3 separate regions of the Homo sapiens genome follow, and all the other regions are linked to region 2. The links come from fine-mapping of genetic effects on gene expression. A gene starts in region 2. Each other region holds a variant in brackets. All regions are shown on one strand. Distances are from middle to middle.

Evidence for each region. PIP is the estimated chance that this variant, and not a neighbour inherited with it, causes the effect.
Region 1: its variant is fine-mapped to the expression of SLC51A in minor salivary gland (GTEx, PIP above 0.99).
Region 3: its variant is fine-mapped to the expression of SLC51A in minor salivary gland (GTEx, PIP above 0.99).

Annotation. Positions count from the first base shown.
Region 1 is chr3:196,651,254-196,659,428 of GRCh38, forward strand. NRROS (negative regulator of reactive oxygen species) reads left to right here. Exons shown (of 3, transcript NM_198565.3): 2 at 3,274-3,394. The coding sequence starts at 3,287. Among named protein-coding and RNA genes, the nearest start is that of NRROS, 16 kb to the left of the region's middle. RefSeq lists an enhancer at 1-264. The variant T/C (reference allele first, on the strand shown) is at 3,887.
Region 2 is chr3:196,213,263-196,221,437 of GRCh38, forward strand. It overlaps SLC51A (solute carrier family 51 member A), which reads left to right and starts at 3,272. Exons shown (of 9, transcript NM_152672.6): 1 at 3,272-3,488; 2 at 4,580-4,674. The coding sequence starts at 3,451. LOC124909479 (a long non-coding RNA gene) reads left to right here. Exons shown (of 4, transcript XR_007096240.1): 3 at 459-635; 4 at 1,161-1,380. LOC105374304 (a long non-coding RNA gene) reads right to left here and starts at 7,129. Exons shown (of 4, transcript XR_001740544.2): 1 at 6,096-7,129; 2 at 5,402-5,497; 3 at 923-1,082; 4 at 501-649. RefSeq lists enhancers at 5,974-6,123, 6,204-6,383 and a silencer at 6,036-6,330.
Region 3 is chr3:196,233,183-196,241,357 of GRCh38, forward strand. SLC51A (solute carrier family 51 member A) reads left to right here. Exons shown (of 9, transcript NM_152672.6): 9 at 1-245. The coding sequence ends at 17. PCYT1A (phosphate cytidylyltransferase 1A, choline) reads right to left here. Exons shown (of 9, transcript NM_001312673.2): 8 at 6,365-6,553; 9 at 1,186-5,712. The coding sequence ends at 5,506. Among named protein-coding and RNA genes, the nearest start is that of SLC51A, 21 kb to the left of the region's middle. The variant C/T (reference allele first, on the strand shown) is at 4,634.

The sequences.
Region 1 (8,175 bases), 440 kb after region 2:
TTTTAATTTAGCACTGGGTCTTGGCCATTCTCACATGATTGTATTAGTCAGGGTCCAACCAGGAAACGGAAACTGCCCAGATTATTTAAGACAGAGGATATTTAATGCAAGAAAGTGGCAACACATGGTGGAAAAGGCTGAGAAAGCAAATAAACAGTCAACACAGCGACGAGCAGCTTCAGGAAGCTTCTTATCCTCACCTAGGTAGGGTGAGGACAAGAGGAGAAGGTGGGCCAGGCACCATGACTCACGCCTGTAATCCCATCACTTTGGGAGGTCAAGGCGGGCAGATCACCTGAGGTCATGAGATTGAGACCAGCCTGGCCAACATGGTGGAACCTCATCTCTACTAAAAATACAAAAATTAGCCAGGCGTGGTGGCGTGCACCTGTAATCCCAGCTACTTGGGAGGCTGAGGCAGGAGAATTGTTGAACCCGGGAGGTGGAGTTTGCAGTGAGGCGAGATCACAACATTGTACTCCAACCTGGGCAACAAGAGCAAAACTCCGTCTCAAAAAACAAAACAAAACGAACAAAAACAAAGAGGAGGAGGTGGTGTCACCAGAGCCTAGGGGTCAGCGGAAGAAACTCTAGGATGTCTCTGTCCAAGGCAGAGAGGAAGGGAGAGAAGTATGCTGGATTCTTTCTGCCCTCTACTGTCTGACCTCCCAGGAGGAGTGTCTTCCATTGACTAAACCAGCAGAGTTTGTGACAGGTGACAGCAGTTTGAGGCCAGGTGACAGCAGAGTTTGAGATTCAGAACCTTCAGAAGTCAGAGCCCTGCCACACTGAGGAGGGCAGGGAAGGGGAAGGCGCAGCTCTGGGGACAAACCGCTGTCAGCCAGCATAGTCATCTGTGCTCAGGGCTAGCCTTGCTCTGCAATTTATGAATGCAGAGTTTTTAATTGAACCTTCCTGCATATGTTTTACATATCTAGTTGGTATAATTCATCCTTCCAGCCACATTACTCAGGCCTTTATTTTAGACTTTGTGTAGCTGTTGAACTACCTTGGAGATTACACAGGAATAACCAGCACTCAGTCAACTCACTGGTGTTTGGAACTCACAAGTAATAATTAATAATTGTGTTACTTGCTACCTTTACAGCCATGAAGCCCTTTCACATTCATGAGACTGGTTATTCTCATGCAACTCTGGAATAGTTATTATTACTCCCATTTTGTAGACGGATTCTCTGAGTCTTGGAGACTTTGTCTGAATTCCTAAAGGACAAATAACAAATAACAGAGGCAGAATTCAAACTCTGGTCTGCTTGGTTCCAAATTCCATGATCTTCCCATGATATCCTGCTGCTTCCTGCCAGGGCCACAACAAGAGTTTTTTTCTGGGCTGGTTGGCTGAGTTTAGGAGGAAGGAGAGGATATGTTTTAAACTTGCAAAATTCTTGATGACCCATAAATTAAAATGCCCCTCCTGAGTGTGACACAAGGCCTGGCTTGCCTTCCAGTCTGAAGGTTGCCTTTTCGCTGAGGGACCTGCACTCTTGCCCCTTACACGTCTAGATTCAGTTCTTCGATACGCAGGGCTGGCTCTTCCAGAGAGACTGGAGTCACAGCAGCAGGTACCACCCCACACCTGACAAGAGGTGGCCAGGGAGGAAGGGAGGGTTCTTACCTCCCCATCTCCCCTCAGTAAAATTCAGGATGCCCAGTGAAGTTTGAATGTCAGATAAACAATTTGTTAGTATAAGGATGTATCTAGCATTGAAATGATGCCTTGTAATTTACTAAATCTGCAACTATGCAGCCTTATTTCATGGCGGGCAGTGGTGGTGATCCCAGGTTTCAGGGGCGGGGAAGGGTGCTGGGGGGATCCTGAGGTCAGGAACCCGTACACCTCTGCTTCTGCCCTCTCTTCCCTGTGCCGGCCACAAGGCAATGACTCCTGTGTGGGTGCAGAGGCAGAAATGGGTCTGGAAGGGGATTCCCAGTGTCTGGCAAGTTCTGGTAAATTCTGCATTGGAGGTTCTCTCTGTAGTAAGGGGAGTTGGCCTGGCCTGAAGTGAAAGCTGGCTTACCCGGTTTCATTGAGCTCTTCAATTAGTCTGTTTGCACTGGTGAGCATTCAAATCTGATCAAGAAGGTAAAATGAGCTTTCAAGATCCCTAAATGCATTTGAAGAAAGGAAAGAGGAGGCCCCTGAGTGGCTGGAGCGAGCAGGTGGGGTGAGCTGGTGCCGCTGGCCCAGGAGAAGATGGGAGGGCAGACACTGGGCCTCCGGTAGGTGTCAAGGAATGGGCAGATGGAATGCTGGGGCCAGCTCTTGCCTCTGGGTCTGCAGAATGCAGAGCTGGGGGCATGCACTGGGCGTCAGGTCCCCAGCAGGGCAGCAGTGAGTGCAGCCTCGCTGCTGGGAGAAACTGCCCTGCTCACTCATCGGAGCTCGGGGAGCGAGGCGGGGCTGCTCTTAGCCCTGCCACTAAGTTCATCCACAACCTCGAGTAGTATCTCTGGGCCTTTGTTCACCTGGCAAATGTGATGAGTATATTGCATTTCCCTTATGGCTCCCCTTAGTTCTGAATCTCTGCTGGTGCGTGTATACCTTCAAGCCTTCTCATTATTGCTGTTCTCTGTGCACTGGCCAGGCAAGCGGGCTGGCAACCACGTTTCGTTAACCACCTTTATTCTACCCAAAGATTGCTTCTTCATTTTCCCTCCGTGTTTCCCCCGTCCAAGCAAAATATCAAACCTCTTTTTTCAAAGGGTCATAGTCAAATGAGTGAACCAAAGAGATCAACGCTTTTGTAACAGCCCCACATCAGCAGCTGAGGAGTAACTCTGGGACAGAGGCCCCCATCCGTGTTTCCGTCTCCGTCCACTCTCCAGTTGTTCATTCATTCACTCAGCAAGTACTTACTGAGCTCAGGGGATGCATCAGACCGATTGGAGCTGGAGGCAGGAAAACTTCAGCAGAATTACAAAATATGGGAAACTCCAGGTGACTGGAGGCCTGGTTACTCAAGCTTTTTGCTTCTCCCTTCTGTGCTGGACTCGCTGAAGTTTAGTGTTCAGCCACCCGTCCATCAAGTGGTAGAGGCAAAATGAAATTGAGTTCTTGTCAACAGTTTCAGTGAAAGGCCGGAAGTCTTGGCTAAATGGAGGTATCTGAGTATCCTGTGGGCTGCACCTCTATGGAGCTCCACAGAGCTCCAAGACCACATAGAATTGGAACTGGCTCCTTCTGCCGATAATACAAACAGCCCTCTGGGATGTCCTTCTCTGACTTACCTCTTCCCTGCTCTCTGTCCACAGGGCTGCCCTTGAGATGGAGTTGCTGCCTCTTTGGCTCTGCCTGGGTTTTCACTTCCTGACCGTGGGCTGGAGGAACAGAAGCGGAACAGCCACAGCAGCCTCCCAAGGAGTCTGCAAGTTGGTGAGTTTCCCTTGAACCCTGATCTGTCGGCTGCTCCTGTCCTGACAAGGCTTGGTCCATTTGGAAAGCTGACAGATTGTCCATCAGGAAGGGCAGAGAATGAAGGAGCCTGCATCACTCTGTGCCTGCCTAGCACAGGGGCATGTGCAGCTGCCCTTTAACCACAGGATTTTAAGATGCTTCCTGGGAAGAGCCAGGCAGTCCCTGCCCCGCCGTTCTCACGCCTGCTGAGGATAGGAGGCATCCGAGACCAGCCTAGGGCATCCTCCCGGAACAAGAACAACTTGTTAAAAATCTGGATGATTCAGGCCGGGTGCAGTGGCTCAGGCCTGTAATCCCAGCACTTTAGGAGGCCGAGGCAGGCAGATCACTTGAGCCCAGGAGTTGGAGACTAGCCTGGGCAACATGATGAAACCACATCTCTACAAAATACAAGAATCAGTCAGGTGCGGTGGCACACACCTATAGTCCCAGCTACTTGGGAGGCTGAGA[T/C]GTGAGGGTGGCTTGAGCCCAGGAAGTGGAGGTTGCAGTGAGCTGAGATCATGCCCCTGCACTCCAACCTAGGTGATGGGGCCAGACCTTGTCTTTAAAAAAAAAAAAAAAAAAGCCAGGCGCGGTGGCTCACGCCTGTCATCCCAGTACTTAGGGAGGCCAAGTCCGGCGGATCACCTGAGGTCAGGAGTTCGAGACTAGCCTGGCCAACATGGTGAAACCCCGTCTCTACTAAAAATACAAAAATTAGCTGGGCGTGGTGGTGCATGCCTGTAATTCCAGCTACTTGGGAAGCTGAAGGAGGAGAATCGCTTGAACCCGGGAGACGGAGGTTGCAGTGAGCCGAGATCACACCCCTGCACTCCATCCTGGGCGACAGAGTGAGACTCTCTCAAAAAAAGAAAAAAACAAAACAAAACAAAAAACTGGATGACTGAGCTGCACCGATGGTATGAGAATCTCCGGGTGAGGTGCTTGAGAGCTGGAGAAGCCTGCCTCGGAGTTTGTGGACGAGTTGACCGCTAAGGCTTACACAGCTGCGGGGAGGACTTGCTGCCATGCCACTCTGCAGAGCGGCAGCCCGGACCACGCTCAGGCTAAGAAGACCCGGAGCGTGGATACCCAAGCCTCCTCTAGGGCTTTCAGCCTAGATGTGAAAATAGACTTGGGTCCAAACTGAGAAATTTCCAGTAATTTTCCCCTTCATCTATATAACAATGATATCAAAAGTCTGCTCAAGAAACACATATTTAGGCCAGGTGCATGGCTCACGCCTGTCATCCCAGCACTTTGGGAGGCCGAGGCGGGCAGATCACAAGGTCAAGAGGTCGAGACCAGCCTGGCCAACATAGTAAAAACCCGTCTCTACTAAAAATACAAAAATTACCCAGGCATGGTGGCACATGCTTGTAGTCCCAGCTACTCGGGAGGCTGAGGAAGATTGCTTGAACCTGGGAGGCAGAGGTTGCAGTGAGCTGACATCGTGCCACTGCACTCCAGCCTGGGTGACAGAGTGATACTCCATCTCAAAAAAGAAAAAAAAAATGAAACACATATTTAATAAACATTTCTTGAGCCATATTATATACTAGGCGTTGGGAAGACAAATTGGATGTCAGGGCTAACACTTACATTCAAGTATGTATTCTTAAAGCATAGCTGTCATGGTTTTTAACCTCTTTTAGTAGGAACCTATAACCACTGTGCTAGAGTCTATTCCAATATGACATAGAGGTTACAAGCTAGACTGGCCTGGTTTAAACCCAGCCCCACCCTTAGCTGGTGACATTGGGGTCACTCTAGGTCATAGTTTCTCCATCTGTAGAATATATACGTAATAATAATATCTACCAATAACATCATGCTGTGTTGACTGATGATTAAATGGGTTAATACATGTAAAGCACTCAGGACAGTGCCTGGTAGGTAGTCAGTGCTACGCGTTTTATCCGTTATCACTCATATTATTATTAATCTCTGCTATGTTTGACCTCCAGCATTCTCTTACAGAGGCAATAAAGGATTAACTACACAGTAGTTATTCAGGGGTTACCAGGCACAGGAAGAGGAGAGATAAATGAACAGCCTTTCAGAGTTCAGGCAAGGCCCTCTGCTTGACACTTTCTGGCCCAGTGGGCAGGAGTAGAGAATTGGCTGCCAGGAAGCCCAAAGAGTGGGTTTCCTGTGGCTCTTCCGAGTTGAGGACTGAGAATTGGAGAGTCTGGGTGCCCTCCACTGGCCCTCATCACATTATCCATTTGACCTTATTAGAAAGTGGACGTTGGCCAGGTGCGGTGGCTCCCGCCTGTAATCTCAGCACTTTGGGAGGCCGAAGCAGGCAGATCACCTGAGGTCAGGAGTTTGAGACCAGCCTGACCAACATGGTGAAAGCCCGTCTCTACTAAAAATACAAAAATTAGCCAGGCATGGTGACGGGCACCTGTGATCTCAGCTACTCAGGAGGCTGAGGCAGGCGAATCGCTTGAACCAGGGAGGCCGAGGTTGCAGTGAGCTGAGATCGCGCCACTGCACTCCAGCCTGGGCGACAGAGCAAGACTCCGTATCAAAAAAAAAAAAAAGAAAAAGAAAGTGGACATGGTAAGCTTTTCTGGGATGGCCATATGGTCCTTCTACATCACTTCAGCGGGGCCACAGGGAATTGCAGAGGTGTGACCCACGACTGCAGCAGCTGTGGTGGAACAGCACCCCATAGCGTGAAGAAAGCCCCTGACCACAACATTCTCCAGTGAGTCCACACGCAGGGAGGAGCGCAACACCCACTCACATAAAGACACACACCTGGCCGGGCGCGGTGGCTCACACCTGTAATCCCAGCACTTGGGGAGGCCAAGGCAGGTGGATCACCCGAGGTCAGGGTGGCCAACATGGCAAAACTCTGCCTCTACTAAAAATACAAAATTAGCCCGGTGTGGTGGTGTGAGTCTGTAATCCCAGCTACGTGGGAGGCTAAGGCAGCAGAATCGCTTGAACCCGGCAGGCAGAGGTTGCAGCAAGCAGAGATGGCGCCATTGCACTCCAGCCTGGACGACAAGAGTGAGACTCTGTCTCAAAAAAAAAAAAAAAAGATAAAAATTCTCTTCCAGAGTACTTTGTAATTATAATGCAATCCCAATCAAAATACCAAAGAGGGAAGGGGGATGTGGAAAGAACTTGGCAAATCCTTTCTAACGTTCGTCTGGAAATTAGAGAAACCCAAATGCTCAACAATAGGAGATGATTAATTAGATCATCCTAATAATTATAGCTCACATTTATTAAGCACAGTAAATGTGTTTCACCTCAACAGTCACACTTGATCCTGAAAAAAAACGCTATGCGAAAATGACGAGTATAATTTCGGTTTTACAGGCAGGGTAATGGAGGTCTCTTTCGGTTCCGTAACCATCCAAAGGTCACCCATTTGATCAAAAGCAGAGCCACGAAGCATTGGCCCTGGAACTCTTGCTCTCAGCCACTGTGCTATTCATGAGATGAATGCATATGCTTCCTAAAAAGATTATGATCACATTTATTTGTACTGCCAAGGCAATAAGTCCGTCATACTTTATTGACAGGGGGAGAAAAATAGGTTACTGAACAGTTTGCACAGTATGGTCTTATTTTTGTTTTTTAGACAAAGGTAGGTAATATCTTACGAAAGATCCAGAAAGACATGGAACAGAAGGTGACTGGTGTTTCTCTGAGAGAGAGGCGGAGGTGACAGAAGAGTTGAGGTTTCCATATGTCAATACAGTATCAATGTTTAATTATTGGAAGGTTTTATTTTAATTATCAGATAAAGAACCCGAGGGGCCAAGAAATTCCACTGCTAGTGGTGGTAGAGCCGAGATTCAGATTGAGTCTGTCCTCCAAACCTGTGCTTCTTCTAACCTCTCTCTCGGGATTTTCCTCTTCTGTTGCCGTGCTGCACTTGCCCTCTGGGATTGAACCCACAATTGTAGGCAACCACTGCCCTTGTATTACTGATAAACTTGTGCAAACGAATGCCATTGCTCCTCTATCTTATCACTTAAAACTTCTTTCTGGCCGGGCACGGTGGCTCACGCCTGTAATCCCAGCACTTTTGGGAGGCCGAGGCAGGCAGATCACCTGAAGTCAGGAGTTCGAGACCAGCCTGGTCAACATGGTGAAACCCCGTCTCTACTAAAAATACAAAAAAAGTTAGCTGGGCGTGGTGGCATGTGCCTGTAATCCCAGCTACTCGGGAGGCTGAAACAGGAGAATTGCTCGAACCCAGGAGGCAGAGATTGCAGTGAGCTGAGATCACACCATTGCACTCCAGCCTGGGTGACAGGGTAAGACTTCATCTCAAAAAAACAAAAAACAAAAAAACCATTTTTGTCCTAGACACCTAAATAACATCCTATGGCTGATGGTTGTTTTTGCCAATTTTGCAAAGCGTGGGGTGAATTAAAGTATCCTGCACGTGTGCTTTCTGCAGTGCGACCAGGGTGGCCTCGTCCCTCCCGCCTCCTTATTCTGCATGATCAGAGTAGAGCCCTGTTTAGGAAAAGCACTGAACTGGGCATTCAGAGCCCTGGGCTCCAGTCCCGGCACAGCCACTGGCTCTTCACTTCTCCCCTCCAGACCCACTTTACTTCCCTGTACAATTCAGGATGGTGAAAGCTCTCAAGTCCTTTTTTTTTTTTTTTTTTTTTTGAGATGGAGTCTTGCTCTGTCGCCCAGGCTGGAGTGCAGTGGTGCAGTGGTGCAGTCTCGGCTCACTGCAATCTCTGCCTCCTGGGTTCAAGCAATTCTCTGCCTCAGCC
Region 2 (8,175 bases):
TCAGCTCACTGCAATCTCTGCCTCCCGGGTTCAAGCAATTCTCTTGCCTCAGCCTCCCAAGTAGCTAGGATTATAGGCACCTGCCACCATGCCCAGCTAATTTTTTTTTTGTAGTTTTAGTAGAGACGGAGTTTCACCATGTTGGCCAGCCTGGTCTCGAACTCCTGACCTCAGGTGATCCACCCACCTCAGCCTCCCAAAGTACGGGCATTACAGGAGTGAGCCACTGCACTCGGCCTAATTTTTGTATTTTTAAGAGATGGGGTTTCACCATGTTGGTCAGGCTGGTCTCGAATTCCTGACCTCAAGTGAGCCACCTGCCTCGGCCTCACAAAGTGCTGGGATTACAGGTGTGAGCCACGGCGCCCAGCCTCTTTTTTGATTTTTCAAAACTGACTCTCATATTAAGGAAGCCAAAACTTAAGTGATAACTGAAATGATCGTGTTACTGACCACAGGTTCTTTAGGCTCCGATAAAAATTGACACGAGGCCAAGCAAATTTCCCAGACAAGGCTTTATTAGGGGCTTCCGTTCCACCACGGGGGAGACAGCACCGCAGGGAGAGGTCTCCGGCTGGCTCCCCAGGGGACTGCGTTGTGGCGTCTCGAGGAGGGCGACACGCGTAATTCATGAGGTAGGTGAGCGTCCCTGCAGGAGTGACAGAACGCACAGGGATAGTTAGGAATCGCGGTAACACATACATCGCAGGATCAGAACACGACGAGAAAGCCTCTCCCTGGCAGAGGCTTTTGTTTTGTTTCTGTCTGTCACCCAGTCTGGAGTGCAGTGACAAGATCTCGGCTCCCTGCAACCTCCGCCTCCCAGGTTCAAGCGATTCTCGTGCCTCAGCCTCCCGAGTAGCTGGGATTACACCACCACACCTGGCTAATTTTTGTATTTTTAGTAGAGACGGGGTTTCACCTTGTTGGCCAGGCTGGTCTCAAACTCCTGACACCTCAGGTGATCCGTCCGCTTCGGCCTCCCAAAGTGCTGGGATTCCAGGTGAGAGCTGCCGCGCCGAGGCAGAGGTCTTGGTCTTGTAATGAGGCCGAGGGTAAAGAGTGGTCGTGCTTCCGGCTTCCTGCACACAAAGGCAATGGAGTTCATTCCCTGAAGTACAAGATTGGAAGTGCGACGCTGCCTATCTTCATTTTTCAAGGTCGTGTGATCAGTGGATGTGGCATTTTGTGTAAGATTTACAGTGGAATGCTGCTTATCTTAATGCTTTCACTGTCCTTCAATGAGCAGGTAAGAAAAAAAAAGGAAGAAAGAAAAATGTTGGGGGGGGGAATGCATTAGCGAATGCATTAGTGGAGTTGGCAGCCGAGTCCCATCCCTCCTCTGTCTCAATAAGTGTCAGATGATGCTATCATATAATTTTGTGGGAAAAAATAGGCCAAAGAAATGAAATTCAGAAGGACTTATTCTTTTTGGTTCTAAAATCAGTTTCTGAGAGCTGGCAGGCCCCAACTGCCAAGAGGAGACCCTGGCGGCCACAGCTCATCCTCTCTGACCAAGCCTTAGCTGGGGATGGGCCGGCCTCCAGGCAGGGCCTCCCGCTGGCTGGATCCCGGGCCACACTGTACAGAAGACAACCCCGTAGAGACCTTGGGTGGGGCAGAAGCCCCCTTCCCTCACTGACACCCTGCCGGTCTCTCCTGGGGTCTCCCAGTCTCTGCTGCCCAGTGGGGAAGCACCCGTCTCAGCCCAACCGCAGCCCCCCCCGGCTCCCTCCTGCCCTTTCACCTTTCCTGCCATTCCCCACTGTGTCCTGAAGTTTCTAAGAACATCCCCAGCGCCCTGTTGTCAGCTCTGGGAAGTCTAAAGTTCAGGGCTTTGGGTAATTAAACCCAAGGCCTCTCAGTGGGCTGGGGGTGAATGACCTGGCGAACGTGCCTGCGGAGATGCTGGGAGGAAGCTGAGTCAGTCTGCGTCTTTGTCAGGGTGGGCTGAGGCCAGTGACCCTCTGGGGGTCAGGGCCCTTGCAGGCCTCTTCCTTCCCTGACCTCCACCTTAGGAGGCAGCTGGCCCCTGAGACGCCTGCCTCACGACATTGTCCTGTCCCAGGAACTGGACTTTAGGAGGAGGGGAAGCTGGAGGGGGATGCAGCTTGACTCTTGGGAGAGACTTTGAGGTGTCTGGGCACAGGAGTGGGGAGTCCTCCGGGTACCCCATCAGGGACTGCTTCCACTGCTTGTATGGCCTCACCAGCCCAGCGCAGGAAGCCCCCTCTCCCTTCCCAGAATTGACCCTCTGCACCCTCTCCTGGGCCCTCTTCTCACTACCTCCATCTCCACCATGCCCCAACAGAGCCCCTCCCCCAGGCCCCTTTGGCCGCTCTCCACACCCCACAGCTTTCTGTCTGACCTGGTTTCTTAGCCTCTCTGGACCTCAGCCTCCTTATCTGTAAAATGGGAATAAGGATACTACTTCCCTTGTAACGCGGTGGTAAAGTTTAAATAAGCTAAGGAACACACTGCATGTCCTGCGGGCCCTGGCACACCAGACATGCTGACAGACGCTGGCTGCTTTCATCAGCTATGCAACCAAATTCTAAGGGGCCCTTCGTATGTGTCAGGCTGCGTGCCAGGAACCTAGAGGTACCACCGTACCACAGTACAAGATGCTGTGTCTGGCTTCGAAGAGATTTCAGTCTATGTGGAGAGAGAGAAAAGGGAAGCTATCAGCCAATAAAATCGTTTGCAAGCCTGTAATTCAGCAGGTTTTCAAGACCTGTCAAATGCCCAGCAATCTCACTCTGCAACTCTGCCTCTTAAATACAGCATCTTCCGGCCCAGCGTGGGGGTGGCTAAGCCCATCATCCAGATGTGATGAACTGGGGTCTGGGAAACCCACACCGGCCTCATCTGGCTTTTCCAGCCTGTCCTCCCTTCCACACATCAGGCTGACAGCACCAAACACGGCCGAGGCCTCAGCCCTGAGTCTCCCCGCTGCAGAGTGCCCAAGCCTGAGTTCCAGCAGGTTCTTCAGGGGCCGCTGACCAGGGAACACTGCGGTGAGGAGCGAGGACTTCGTCCCCACCCCGGCCCAGGGCAGGGGCTTCGTGGTGAGCCCACCCCACCCCAGAAGGCTCCTGGAAGGGCAGGGCAGACTGGCAGCAAAATCCTATAGGATGGGCCGGGCCAGAGGCAAGGGGTGGCCAAAGGCACCTGTCCAAGAGGTGGGAGGGACCACACCTGGGGGCAGGGACGAGTCAGGCACAGGGAACTCCGCCAGCCTAGAGGATCAAATTCCTCCGGGGTGAACTCTGAGATAGAAAGTTGGCCCGGGAAGCTCAAGGAGGGAGAGCGGCAGAGGGGAAGACTCTGCAATTCTGCTTGCCCCCCACCCCGGCCCAGGCAAGCCACCCTGCCCCCGGCCCCCACCTGCCCGCCCCGCCTGCCCTTCCTCACCCCGGTGCCTGCGGGATTGCTGGAGAGAACGCGGCGATGGAGCCGGGCAGGACCCAGATAAAGCTTGACCCCAGGTAAGTGAGGGCGGCGGGCCCTGGGCCAGTCGCTGGGCAGCGGTGGCCCCTATCCCGCGGCCTGTCCTCTCTCCCTCCCAGAGCCCTTTGGCGGCCGCACTCAGAATGAGACAGGACTGGAAATGCTCTAGCTGTTCCTAGGTCCTCAGGGACAACGTGGGTTTGGGCCAGGGTGTGACACTCCAGGGCCTCGGCCTTGCCCCCCAGCGTGGGGAGAGAAAGGTCGCAGAGCGGGGGCTGTGGAAGGCATTCGCAGAGGAAATGGCAGCATCCCTCAGCAGCAGGGGGCCCGTCCGTCTGTAAGGACTCACCCTTCCTCTGGGATCCTGCTCTTCCTCTCTGGTCAGTCCCTGGGCTGCTGCCCGACCCGCATGGAGAGAATCCACGGTGGGCTCTTCAGGCACGGCAGCCAGGCACAGCCTGGCTAGGTGGCAGCTTGTCTTACTCCCCCACCTGGGCCAGTTCTCCACTCCCTCTAAGAAAAGGGCCCTGAGGCCGGGCGCCTGTAATCCCAGCACTTTGGGAGGCTGAGGCGGGAGTCCAGGAGTTTAAGCCCAGTTCCAGTTTGAGTCCTGGAGTTCGAGACCAGTGTCTGAGCAACATGGCGAAATCCTGTCTCTACCAAAAATATAAAAAATTAGCCGGGCCTGGTGGCGTGCACCTGTAGTCCCAGCTTACTCATGGGGATGGGGGTTGAGTAGATCACTTGAGCCCAGGAGGTCAAGGCTGCCTGTATGAGCCAAGACAGACCACTGCACTCCAGCCTGGACAACAGAGCAAGACCCTGTCTCAAAAAGAAAAAAAAAGAAAGAAAAAGGAAGGAAGGAAGGAAGGAAAGAGAAGGGGAAGGAAGAGAGAAAGAGAAAGAGAGAGCAGAAGGAAGGAAGGAAGGAGAAGGGGAAGGGGAAGGGAGAGAGAAAGAGAAAGAGAGAGTGAAAGGAAGGAAGGAAGGAAAGAAAGAAAGAGAGAGAAAGAGGCCCTGAGGGGAAATGGACAAAGTCCTGCACTCAGGAGTGGTTGAGGGTCCAGTGTGCAACCCTCCCCCTTCCCCCAGCCCCCATGGTTCTGAGCACAGGCTGGTGTCTCGCCAGGTACACAGCAGATCTTCTGGAGGTGCTGAAGACCAATTACGGCATCCCCTCCGCCTGCTTCTCTCAGCCTCCCACAGCAGCCCAACTCCTGAGAGGTGAGTGGGGACCCTCCTCAGAGGGAACTGAGAGGAGGGAAACCAGGATAGCTGAGTGGAGCTGGGGAGAGGCGGCCCTGAGCTGGTGCACCTGGGCAGCCGGGGAGAATAACTGGCCCGGTGTCTGTCATCGTGGTTAAGGCTCTGGAGAAGGGCAATGCCTCAAGGAGTCAGTGGGTCAAAAGGGTAGCATGAGAGCCTGGCTCCGGAGAGCAACCGTCATGTTGGGCCTCCACAAAACTGGCCTCAAAGCTCATTCAAACTGCGGACACTGCGACCTGGGGCGCTTTTTCAGACCCCAGAGCCATCTGGGGACCCAAGATGGTGCCCAAGTGGTCCAAGCCCCATCGGGTCTCCTGGAGGGCTGCACGGCATCCGCCCTGGACCCATGTCACTCTAGAGGGTGGTTACGGTGAGTGACGTGCTTCACACAGGTGAACCAGTTGTATTTGTTTTACGATCCAGCCTTTCTGAAAAACCTTTGTCCTCACTGGAGCATTCTGTTGTCGGGTTTTTGTGTGTGTGTTTGTGGGTATTTGCCTCATTCCACCCCTGAGCTCTCAGGTGGACAGATGGGATTCAAAAACCTGTTCTACAGTGTTTATTGTAGTGGAGTAATTTGTTTGCAATAATAAGTCATAATTGTCCACTGAAGGGGAGGGTGTGGGGATCCCCGAGGCCAGCTCAAGTTCAGCTGTTGGAAGAATTCCTTGACTGGAAATTTTACCTTTGCGTTTTGTCGCTCTGTTTCCTGAAGATAACTTGGGGTGCTCCTGGTCGTCCATCTACTGCTTTGATTCCTTGGATCCCACCCATTCTTTCACTTTAAGAAAAAACAAGTAATTGTTGCAGAGGTCTCTGTTTTGCAGCTTCCCTTTTGCAAGAAGCACTTTTTCCAAATAAAACAGTAATTAAAAAAAAAAAAACATAGGTGAACCTGCAAAAGTCCTCGCAGTGTTGGCCAACAAGATTCTATTACTGAATTACTTTTGAAAGTGAAAGGCATTGGCTGGGAGCGGTGGCTCACGCCTGTAATCCCTGCACTTTGGGAGGCCGAGGCAGGTGGATCACTTGAAGCCAGAAGTTGGAGACCAGCCTGGCCAACATGGTGAAACCCCGTCTCTACTGAAAATACAAAAATTAGCCAGGCGTGGTGGCGGGCACCTGTAATCCCAGCTACTCGGGAGGCTGAGGCAGGAGAGTTGCTTGAACTCGGGAGGCGGAGGTTGCAGTGAGCCGAGATCACGCCACTGCACTGCAGCCTGGGCAACAGAGTGAGTGAGACTCCGTCTCAAAAATAAAAGAAAAAAAAGGAAAAGAAAAAGAAAGTGAAAGGCATAGGATGGGGCTCAGCTTATTCCCCGGACACCAAAAACATTGAGAATCACGGCCCGAGCATGCTTAGAGAAAATGTGACTCACGCCTGCGTTTTATTTTGTTTTCCTGCTGCATACTGACTACCTCTGAAATGTTGGATACAAGTCTGTGTCTCTGTAGCACATTTAACACGTTTCCCAGGCAACAGGAAGCTCTCAGTGTGCGTTCTGTTGCAGACGTGGGCGTGTCCTTGGGCTGTGTAGGGCTTCATTTCAGATGATCTGAACCAGAGCGGTTGCCAACTGCCAGTGTCCGGAGATGCCTGGTGGCCACTCTGTGGTTAGTGGCAGTAGGTGGCTGCTACATCTAGTTCCAGTGAACCTCCTGTTGAGAGAGTGCAGCTGGTGGTACAAGCCTTCCCTTACACAGCAGCTGTCCCCCCAGGGAATATTTGGCAGTGTCGGGAGACTTCCGGTTGCCACACTGGAAGGTGCTACTGGCATCTCGTGGTCAGAGGCCAGGAAAGCTGCTAAACTTCCTACAGGGCACGGGAAGAGCCCCCACAGAAAAGATTATTCAGGCCAAAGTGTCAATAGTGCTCAGGTTGAGAAACCTTGCCTCACGCAATGAAAACGGTTCTCACATTGCTTTGCTTCAGAATGTGCAAACGGAAACCCCAAGGCTGTTCAGAACAGGCCATTCTGAGTCTGCTAGTCCAGCAAGCCTCGCCGCAGGCAGAGTGGGGAGGATTTGGCCAGCGGGCCCTCCTGGGACAGGGAAGCTGCGAGGATGAGTTCGGGGACGCCCCAGGCCCAGGGGAGCGAGGTCTGGCAGGATTCAAGGATCCTGGTGGAAGAGCAGGGGACAATTGAGAGGGCCGGGCAGGAGAGGTGAGGCCCGCTGCGCGCCGGGCTGGCGGAGGAGCTGTGCTTTATCCCGCAGCGAGAAGGAGCTCGTGAAGGCTCTGAGGCTGGGAGTGGCTGGATGAAAGTCGTGCTTCTCGGCCATTCGTTAGTAATCAGGATGGACTGCAGAGGAAGAGGCTTAAGAAGCAGGGATGCGGCCGGACACCGTGGCTCATGCCTGTAATCCCAGCACTTTGGGAGGCCGAGGCAGGCGGATCATCTGCGGTCAAGAGTTCAAGATCAGCCTGGCCAATGTGGTGAAATCCTGTCTCTACTGAAAATACAAAAATTAGCCAGGTGTGGTGGCGCGTGCCTGTAATCCCAGCTACTCAGGAGGCTGAGGCAGGAGAATCGCTTGAACCCGGGAGGCAGAGGTTGCAGTGAGCCGAGATCTCACCATTGCACTCCAGCCTGGGTGACAGAACAAGACTCCGTCTCAACAACAGCAAAAAATAGGCAGGGATGTAAATGAGAGGTCGTTGCCCCGGCCTGCCATGCGGGAAAAGAGTCTGAGGCAGGGCAGTGGCAGGGAAAGAAGAGGAAGGGTTGGGAAACAGGCAGTTCAAAGAAAGAGCAGGCAATCTAGGAAAGACCTAGGCGTGTAAGTGCTGGTTCTGGGCAATGGTGACGGCACAGCCAGAAATAGGAGAAGCAGGAAGAAGTGCCTCTGGGAGGCTGTGGCGAAACTCCTTCCTCGCTTCATTTGTAAACTTTGTTGTTCCTTAATTTTTCTTTTTTTTTTTTTTTTTGAGACAGGGTCTCACTGTGTCACTCAGGCTGGAGTGCAGTGGTGCGATCTCGGCTTACCCCAACCCTCCACCTGCTGGGCTCAGGTGATCCTCCCACCTCAGCCTCCCTAGTAGCTGGGGACCACAGGCACATGCCACCAAGCCCAGCTAATTTTTGTATTTTTTTGTAGAGGTGGAGTTTCTCCATGTTGCCCAGGCTGGTCTCGAACTTAAAATTAAATGCTAAGAAAACTATTTCAGGCCAGTCACGGTGGCCCATGCTGCAACCCCAGGAGGTCGAGGTTGCAGTGAGCTATGATTGCACCACCAGCCTCAGCCTGGGCAACAGACCGAAACCCTGTCTCAATTTAAAAAAAAGAGAGAGAGAAAAAAAAGCTATTATTCTAGAAGAATGATTGAATCAATTTTTTTTTTTTAATTTTAAAATCACGGCTCACGGCAGCTCGAGCTCTGGGCTCAAGTGATCCTCCCACCTCATCCTCTCGAGTAGCTGGGACTGCAGGCACACACCACCATGCCTGGGCTAACTT
Region 3 (8,175 bases), 20 kb after region 2:
TGAACCTCAAAGCCTAAGGTGGATGGCTTGGACAATGAAAGGATGCTGTACTCATTAGAATACAAGATTCCTTTACTGTCCCTCAACCTTGACCAAATGGGAAGCATTCCCCCTTGTCAACACAAGCTGGCAGATACATTTGACTCTACAGATGAAGGTGAACAATGTTAGAATAAAATTGCTTTGGATCTTGCCTGGAAGGTGTTTTAAGTTTTGTAATAAACAAGATGATGTCTGAAAATGTGTAACTGGGCACCTTGCCTCTGTCCATGTCACTATTAACCCTTCAAGGTTGTATATTGCTGGCTAGGTGCGACAGCTCATGCCTGCTATCCCAGCACTTTGGGAGCCTGAGGCGGGAGGATCACTTGAGCCCAGGAGGTTGAGGCTGCAGTGAGCAATGGTTGTGCCATACACTCCAGCCTGGGTGATACAGCCAGACCCTGCCTCTGGAAAAAAAAGAAAGCTTACTGAGCTTTCCTAAAGCAGATGAAAAGAAGAGTATATAGTATTGTGTCTGGCATAAGAAAAGGAGAACTTGGTGAGGTGAAATAGCACCAGCCCAGAGTCTTGAAGAAGCCAGGGGCCCTGGAGAACAGATGGAAGGTGACCTTTCCCTGACAGGTGTGCTACTACGGCACCAACCACGCGGGGCCCTGGTGGTCTGGGTCAGCCTCACTTTGTGGGACAATGGCTTTTGAGTCTTCAGTGACAAGCTAGAAAAGGAATCTCCTGACACTGTGGTCATGGAGCTTGATTTCTAAGGAGAGAGTCAGCACGTGGAAGCAAAGGCACCGAGAGTCCAAGTAAAAGTCCCAAATCCATAAAATGCACCACACAGGTCAAAACACAGGACACGGCCGGGCGCGGGGGCTCACGCCTGTAATCCCAGCACTTTGGGAGGCCGAGGCAGGTGGCTCACCTGAGGTCAGGAATTCGAGACCAGCCTGCTCAACATGGAGAAACCCCATCTCTACTAAAAACACTAATTAGCCAGGCGTGGTGGCGCATGCCTGTAATCCCAGCTACTTGGCAGGCTGAAGCAGGAGAATCGCTTGAACCTGGGAGGCGGAGGCTGCAGTGAGCCGAGATTGCGCCACTGCACTCCAGCCTGGGCAAGAAGAGCAAAACTCCGTCTCAAAAAAAATAAAAATAAAAAATAAAAACACCACTGGACATGGAACATCAGGTAAAACCACACTGCCTTTATTTGGCTAAAGAACAAAATCCAAAATAACTCAGAACAAACTAAGAACAGACAGGAAAATTACAGACTGAACCCCACTTGAGGAAGACTTCCCCACGGACTCACACTGGTGATGGGGCGAACGTTCAAGACGAAGCCAGCAGTCCTTTCCAAGACTCTTTTGTCTTTTAGGGATCCTCAATACAAAACAACCCAACTAATCCAGGATATGTGTTCAAAACAGTCAGTTTTCCCCCTCAAAAGGCGGGAAGGCCCACTTCAAACCTCCAGGAACACAACCCAAGTCATCCCAGTGTTAAACCTGGTGCTTCCGTTTTCTGCCTCAATCCGAGCGCTAACATAAAATCTTGGCAGACAACAATCTTTCTTCTTCAAGAAAATTAACATTTAATGGTATAATCCCAAGAACATGTTCTACTTATTTACTTGGAAAAATAGAAGCTAGGGACCACTCTTTATCCGATGGCAGTCTATTCTATGAGAGAAAACAAGAACAATCATTGTTATGACTTTGAAAAATAGAACCTTTAAAAATACTTATATTGGTAAGCTTAAAAAAATATCATCAGTTAAAAACATTAAGGGGGCTTTCTTTTTCTACCTGTATTGGTTCAACTTCTGGTGAGAATGTGTGCTGATAGAAAATCTAGAAGCTATGGCTTTTAGGGAATTAAAGAAAAGCAGCAAAATATAATTGATTTGGAAAGATTTTGGATAAGTGATCTGGAACAGGATTAAAAAGGCAAAGAGCTCTTGAAAATAAGCTACCCATAGTCAAAATAATCCAGGAAGGGGGAATGACGCCCTATGAACCACTGTGGAAAGAACATCTAGAGATGGTCTGACCAGCTGTGCAGCCTCCAAAAAAAAATCACTATCGCTCAGGTGCAGCCCCCCAAAAACCACCATCACTCAGGTACAGCCTCCAAAAACACCACCATCACTCAGGTGCAGCCTAAGGAGTCATCAGTGATCAGAAAGTGGCTAAGTTTCCTTAGCCTCCCTCATATTTTTTCTCTTCTTCAGGATTTTCAACCTCCTCACATCCCTAACTTTCTTACCCAAGCCTCAGCAATATAATGGTCTTTGGCTCTAGCTATCAGCAATAGCTGCAAGAGCACAAATGATCCCTTCCTAGTCCTCTAAAGTGTCAACCTCCATTCTTCAGTGCTTCTGAATCTAGCATAAGACCAAGCTTTCCGTCCGGCCCACCGGAAGGCAGTGGCTGCGCCGGCACCTCCCCGGCTCTGGCCTTCTAATGTCTCACACACAGAGGCTCTGCTCTAAGGCCAACACTTCTGGCTCTCTCATCTTGGCCACATTTGGCCCACCCATGTTGACTGCTTTCTCGTGTGTGATTCAGGGAAACAGCTCCATAGCCTCAAACGTTAATATCTGAAGATTTAGATCCCAGGCATTGTGGTGGTGTGCACACCTCTAACCTCATTTAATTAGGCACAGATGACCACATTATGCAACTTCCCAACAGCTTTCTCCATCTACCCGTGCTAGTCCAGCACCTCAGACCACATTTACCCCAAAGTATCTAACAGGCCACACTATAAAAGATTTTAGCTTTCAGTCAGACAAATAGCTTTCAGTCAAAACGATTAGACTGAGGTGGTAGAAGCTCACCAAAAGGGGAAAGGGAGTTTCCCAATAACATGTACGTTTGCTGGCCCTAGCAGTCTCAGAGGCCTGTCAGCCTGCAGGTCCCGTTCCAAGCACAGGGCATGCCAAGAGCAGCCCACTGAGAGCAGAGGAAGAGGGCTCAAACATTTGGGACCCAGACAATATATTTAGGAGGTATGGCTCCAATAGGGAGGGAGGAGGAAAACCACGTTCCGGGCATCTCCCTGTCTATCCAAATACACTTGCATAATGTGCACTTGGAGGAACCAAGCAGATGGGCTTCAGCACAGACTTCACTGCCACACCACACCAGGGAGAATAAGTTAGACAGAAACAGGCAGCATTCCCAAAGAGAGAAGGCTGACGCAGAAAAGTTCAAAGATGAGACTATGTAACACTGGGTAACACAGGAAAACACTAACTTCAGCTGTTTCAAAGACAGACAGGATTCCAAGCCAAAGCTTGTATGACCAGATTTAAGAGTAAGAACTGCGCTTCAAAGAAGAGTTAGAAATGTCGTTGTCATAGGCGATCAGGATAACAAGAGGCTTCATTCTCCCTCGCCTCTGTGACGCTCTTTCTGGGTGATCCAAGTTTTGTTTTTTTTCTAGTTGATTATTTCTCTTTATTTCTGTATGTGTGTGTGGTTTTTGTTTTGTTTTGGAGACAGAGTCTCGCTCTGTCACCCAGGCTGGACTGCAGCGGCACCATCTCTGCTCACTGCAACCTCCGCCTCCTGGGTTCAAGGGATTCTCCTGCCTCAGCCTCCCAAGTAGCTGGGATTACAGGTGCCCACCACCACGCCTGGCTAATTTTTGTATTTTTAGTAGAGATGGGGTTTCACCACGTTGGTCAGGCTGGTCTCAAACTCGTGGCCTCAAGTGATCCACCAGCCTCAGTCTCCCAAAGTGCTGAGATGACAGGCGTGAGCCACCACGCCTTGCCTGGGTGATCCAAGTTTTAAGAACCAAGGTAGTCCTGCTGTGCAGGCAATGATTCTAGCCTCTGACCCTCAGGCGGAAAACTAGGTGTTACCAGAAAGTGTTTAGGGAGTGGACTATGAGATGCTCACAGTCCTAGCAGAGGCAAGGAAAGAGAAAATGTGGTTTTCTTAGCTGAAAACACTAAAATTCCACCCCCACAAGGGGTATTTATGAGTGACAGGGGTGGGGCCTGGACATAAGCAATTTTCCCCTGGATCTAGCCACAGGATTACTGATGGGTGATGATCTGCTAGGCCGCGTAGCTAAGCAGCTAAGGAGACAGGAGGCCAGGGCTTTAAAAGTTAGAGCATGCTCAACAGCAAGTGCTAAGCATTAGCATTCTTTGATTTGAAAGTCAAGTGTTGAATCCCCCCGGGCAAGCCAACAAGGCAGATGGAACCACAACCACCAGGCGTGTGTGAAAAGTGGGGAGAAAACCTACCACACTCTTGTCACGTGAGGGTATGCTCTGTGGCTTGCTGGAGGAGCAGCAGAGGGAGGTCCCTGCCAGCTGCAGCTCTCAGAGGAAAAGAAAGATGTGGAGCACTGGTTCCAGGGAAGAATGTTCTGAAGAGGGACAGAGGTCAAGGTGATAAGGCTGTTGCTTTAGAAAGGAAGGTGTTTCCTATGCTTTTGCCTTTACATTCTGTGCAAATCTCTCTAATATGGCTATGACCAAAATGGATTAACATCAAGTTCCAACAGCAGACATTTACAAAGTATCCTTTGTAAAAGGCTAGGTAATATTAATAGCATTCAAATAGGAGTAGCAGGGCCAGGCACTTACTCCCAGTAGGAAACTAATCTCAAT[C/T]GACTTGGTATAGGATTGAGTATTGTCCCGCTCCTCTCCTCATCATTGTAACTCTAAAAGTGTTCCTTCCTTCGAAGGTAGATGGCACGAAAGAGACTGACAAAAGCTCCCAAAGAACTGGGTCACAGAGTTTTCTGAGAAGATGAACACAGCAGAAACACTGCAGTTGATGCCATGGGTCTGCTTCCATCCCCATCAGTGTCTTCATGGACCCCATTGGGTCCAACAAGAAACTCCTCAGGGAGTAAGAAAAGTTAGGTTCAGATCTCCTTCCCGCAGCCACAATGACACTGGTGACAGCAGTACGTTCAGGGGATTTGTGACTGTAACTCTGCTTTTCGCTTTTCCTTAAGGAAATCAAAATTAAGATATTTCTCCACAAATTACCCATCAGCGTGGCTCATTTCGTGAAGGACTTGGCAAGCCACATAGCTTCAGAACGGAAGGCAAATGCTATAGTATACCGGGAAGAAAAGGCCTCTGCGTATTACACTACCTCCTTCTTCTGCCCACTCCTCAGGGGCAAAAAATTAGTTCTACATTTGAAAGACGAATTTTTTAAAAAATTAATGAAAATGACAATTTCCCTGTTGAGATCACGTGAACATAAACAGTGAAACAAAGCCCTTGGGGGGGGGTAAATGGATGCAGAGCAGGCTTCTAAGGTGCAGTCCCCCTCCTTCGTGTGGGTGAGTGATGTCACTTGCAGGACAGGCTGTTTGGGTTCCCCCAGTCCTAGGTCTTCTTTCCCCAGTTGTCTTTCCTTTGTAGCTGTCCTTAGGTTTAGTGTTGGGGTCACAATTTGGAATTCAACAGAGAGCTTCTGAAGGTAATGGGACAGAAAGGGAGGACAGGAAAGGAGGGAGGAAACATTAGTCTTCTTCATCCTCACTGATATCATAGGCTGCAGCCTTGTGCCTGGAGAGATTTGCTGGGGAGCAAGGTGGGGAAGTCTTGCCGGAGAAGGGCCATCGGAAAGAGGGGGAGGGGGAGCGCTCGCGAGTAGGGCTGCTGCTGGGGCTCTGCTTCGGGCTGATGGCCTGCAGCATCCGGCCCTTCCCCTCTTTCAGCATATGTTTCTGCAGAAACCGAAAGGAAGAGTCAGAAAAACACCGTGGATCCTACTTAATCATCACTGAAGCATCTAGGACTGGGATAGTCTATGCTGTACTATTTATTTAAGGGTTCTCCCCTGCTGTCATCACCCGGGAAATTCCCCATTCTTCCTCAATAATCTAGTCTAGGATTATTCTAATTTATCCAAACACCTTCACAGACAGATCCTTCCTGATATCTAACCTAGGACTCACTTGCTCAATCTTTTATTTGGTTGAAAAGACTGCTACTCCTCAAAGACAGAATTCCCACCTTACCTGGGGTTCCTGCTGCAGCTACTTGTAGTGGAGGCTGCTTTCTTTTTATTGTTCTTTATTCTTTCCTTTCCTTCTATCTAAAATCATACCACAGATAAAAGCTGGGCAAGGCGACTTGCTTATCTTGTCACCAGACTTTAAGGTTGAGAGAGAGCTGGCAAAATTATCTAGGAGAATGTGTAACGTCTTTCTGTAAAGGTTTCAAAAACCTTGCTGGGGACAGTTGAAAGATAGTTCTGCCCAGATAAGGGGATAGACTAGATAACTTCTCAGTGTCGATGCCCCTTCCTGCTCAATGATTCTGTCATTCTTTCCACAACATGGAACTCCCTACATTGTCCAGTGGGAAAGAACATACCAGTGCTCCTTCCGGACCAAACATTTCCAGAAAACTTCCAATGAATTCTCGGGACTTCTCCTCCCACTTCTGAATGAGGTCAATGCTTTTTTCCTCCACCTTCTGAACAAATTCTTTTGACTTTTCCTCCACATCTTTCACTTTCTTCTTTACTTTGTCAACCCTCTCCTGCAAGTGGTATTTCTTCTCCTAGATAAAGAAATAACTCTTCTGAGAAATAATGCTCATCCTAAACTTCTCTACCATAAGAGAACGAAAAAACATGGCTCAAGCACTCAATTGACACTGTTTTCAGTCTAGAATTTTGCTTTGCTTTAATCTACCCCACTCTCAGCATAATAACAGATAAGATATGCTGTGGATGCACACACAAGAAGTGGTAATTCTAATATTGTGGGCATTTGGGAATAAACTAAAAATATAGGCTATACCCAGTAACAGGCACGTAGCCAAATAAAGTCAGAGTTTTAAAGATAAAACATAAACTTGGAACATAAACATGCGCAGCATGGCCCGAACCTCATTCCAGACGGAGATACAGAGGCAGCTAAAAGATCACTGCACAATACTGCCAAGAATAAACTAATTACAATAGATTGAAAGAGAAAATACTAGATCTTTTACTTAATTAATCTGCTTATTGTACTGGATTTTTCCCCTCTATCACTGGCTTATTCTATTATTTTAAATGAATTGTGTTTTTTGCTTTTTGTTCCTTTAGTATTTTAAGGTCCATTTACTCATTTGCAAAATGATGATACTCGTTGGTCTTACCAACTTTGCTAAAGATAAGGAAAATGGTATAAACCCTCCGGTGGAAGGGAAGGGAGTATTTAGTCAAATGAGAAGTATCCTTGGCCAGGCACAGTGGCTCATGCCTGTAATACCAGCACTTTGGGAAGCCGAAGTGGGAGGACTGCTTGAGGCCAGGAACTCGAGAGCAGCCTGGACAACATAGCAAGACCTCATCTCTACTAAAAATAAAAATATAAAAAATAAGCTGGGTATGGTGGCCTGTGCCTGTAGTCCCAGCTACTCAGGAGGCTGAGATGGGAGGAGCACTTGAGCCCGGAGGTCAAGGCTGCAGTAAGCCAAGATTGCGCCACTGTACTCTGGCCTGGATGACTGAGTGTGACTCTATCTCAAAAAAAGAAAAAGAAAAGTACTCTCAAAATTTCCAGATCATAAAGAGAAAAGGGATTATGTTTAGAATTTTTAAACACCTGATTTTTATGGGAAAAATAAAGCTATAGTAAGTAAATTAACAAGAGCTAGGGTTTATCTGCCTAGATAAATCATATTTAGATGTAATCATTTTATCCATTCTTATAGCACAATTTACAGAGATGGGAGTAGGTCAGGGAGCATGGTAAACTGGTTATGTAGAAGACATTAAAGTTAGCAGCTTTCTTCTTTTTAAATCGATTTTATTGAGGTCTAATTTACATACAAAATGTATAGTGTTGGCTGGATACGGTGGCTCATGCCTGTAATCCCAGCACTTTGCGAGGCCAAGGGGGTCCGATCGCTTGAGGCCAGGAGTTTGAGACCAGCCTGGCAAACATGGCAAAACCCCATCTCTGCTAAAAAAAAAAAAAAAAAAAAAAAAAAAAAAAATTAGCCAGGCCTGGTGGCACATGCCTGTAATCACAGCTATTCAGGAGGCTAAGGCACCAGGAGACAGAGGCTGCAGTGAGCCGAGATCACGCCACTGCACTCCAGCCTCGGTGACAGAGCGAGACCCTGTCTCAAAAAGAAAGAAACACTACATATATATATATTTGCATGAATTTTTTTAGTTTTTTTGTTTG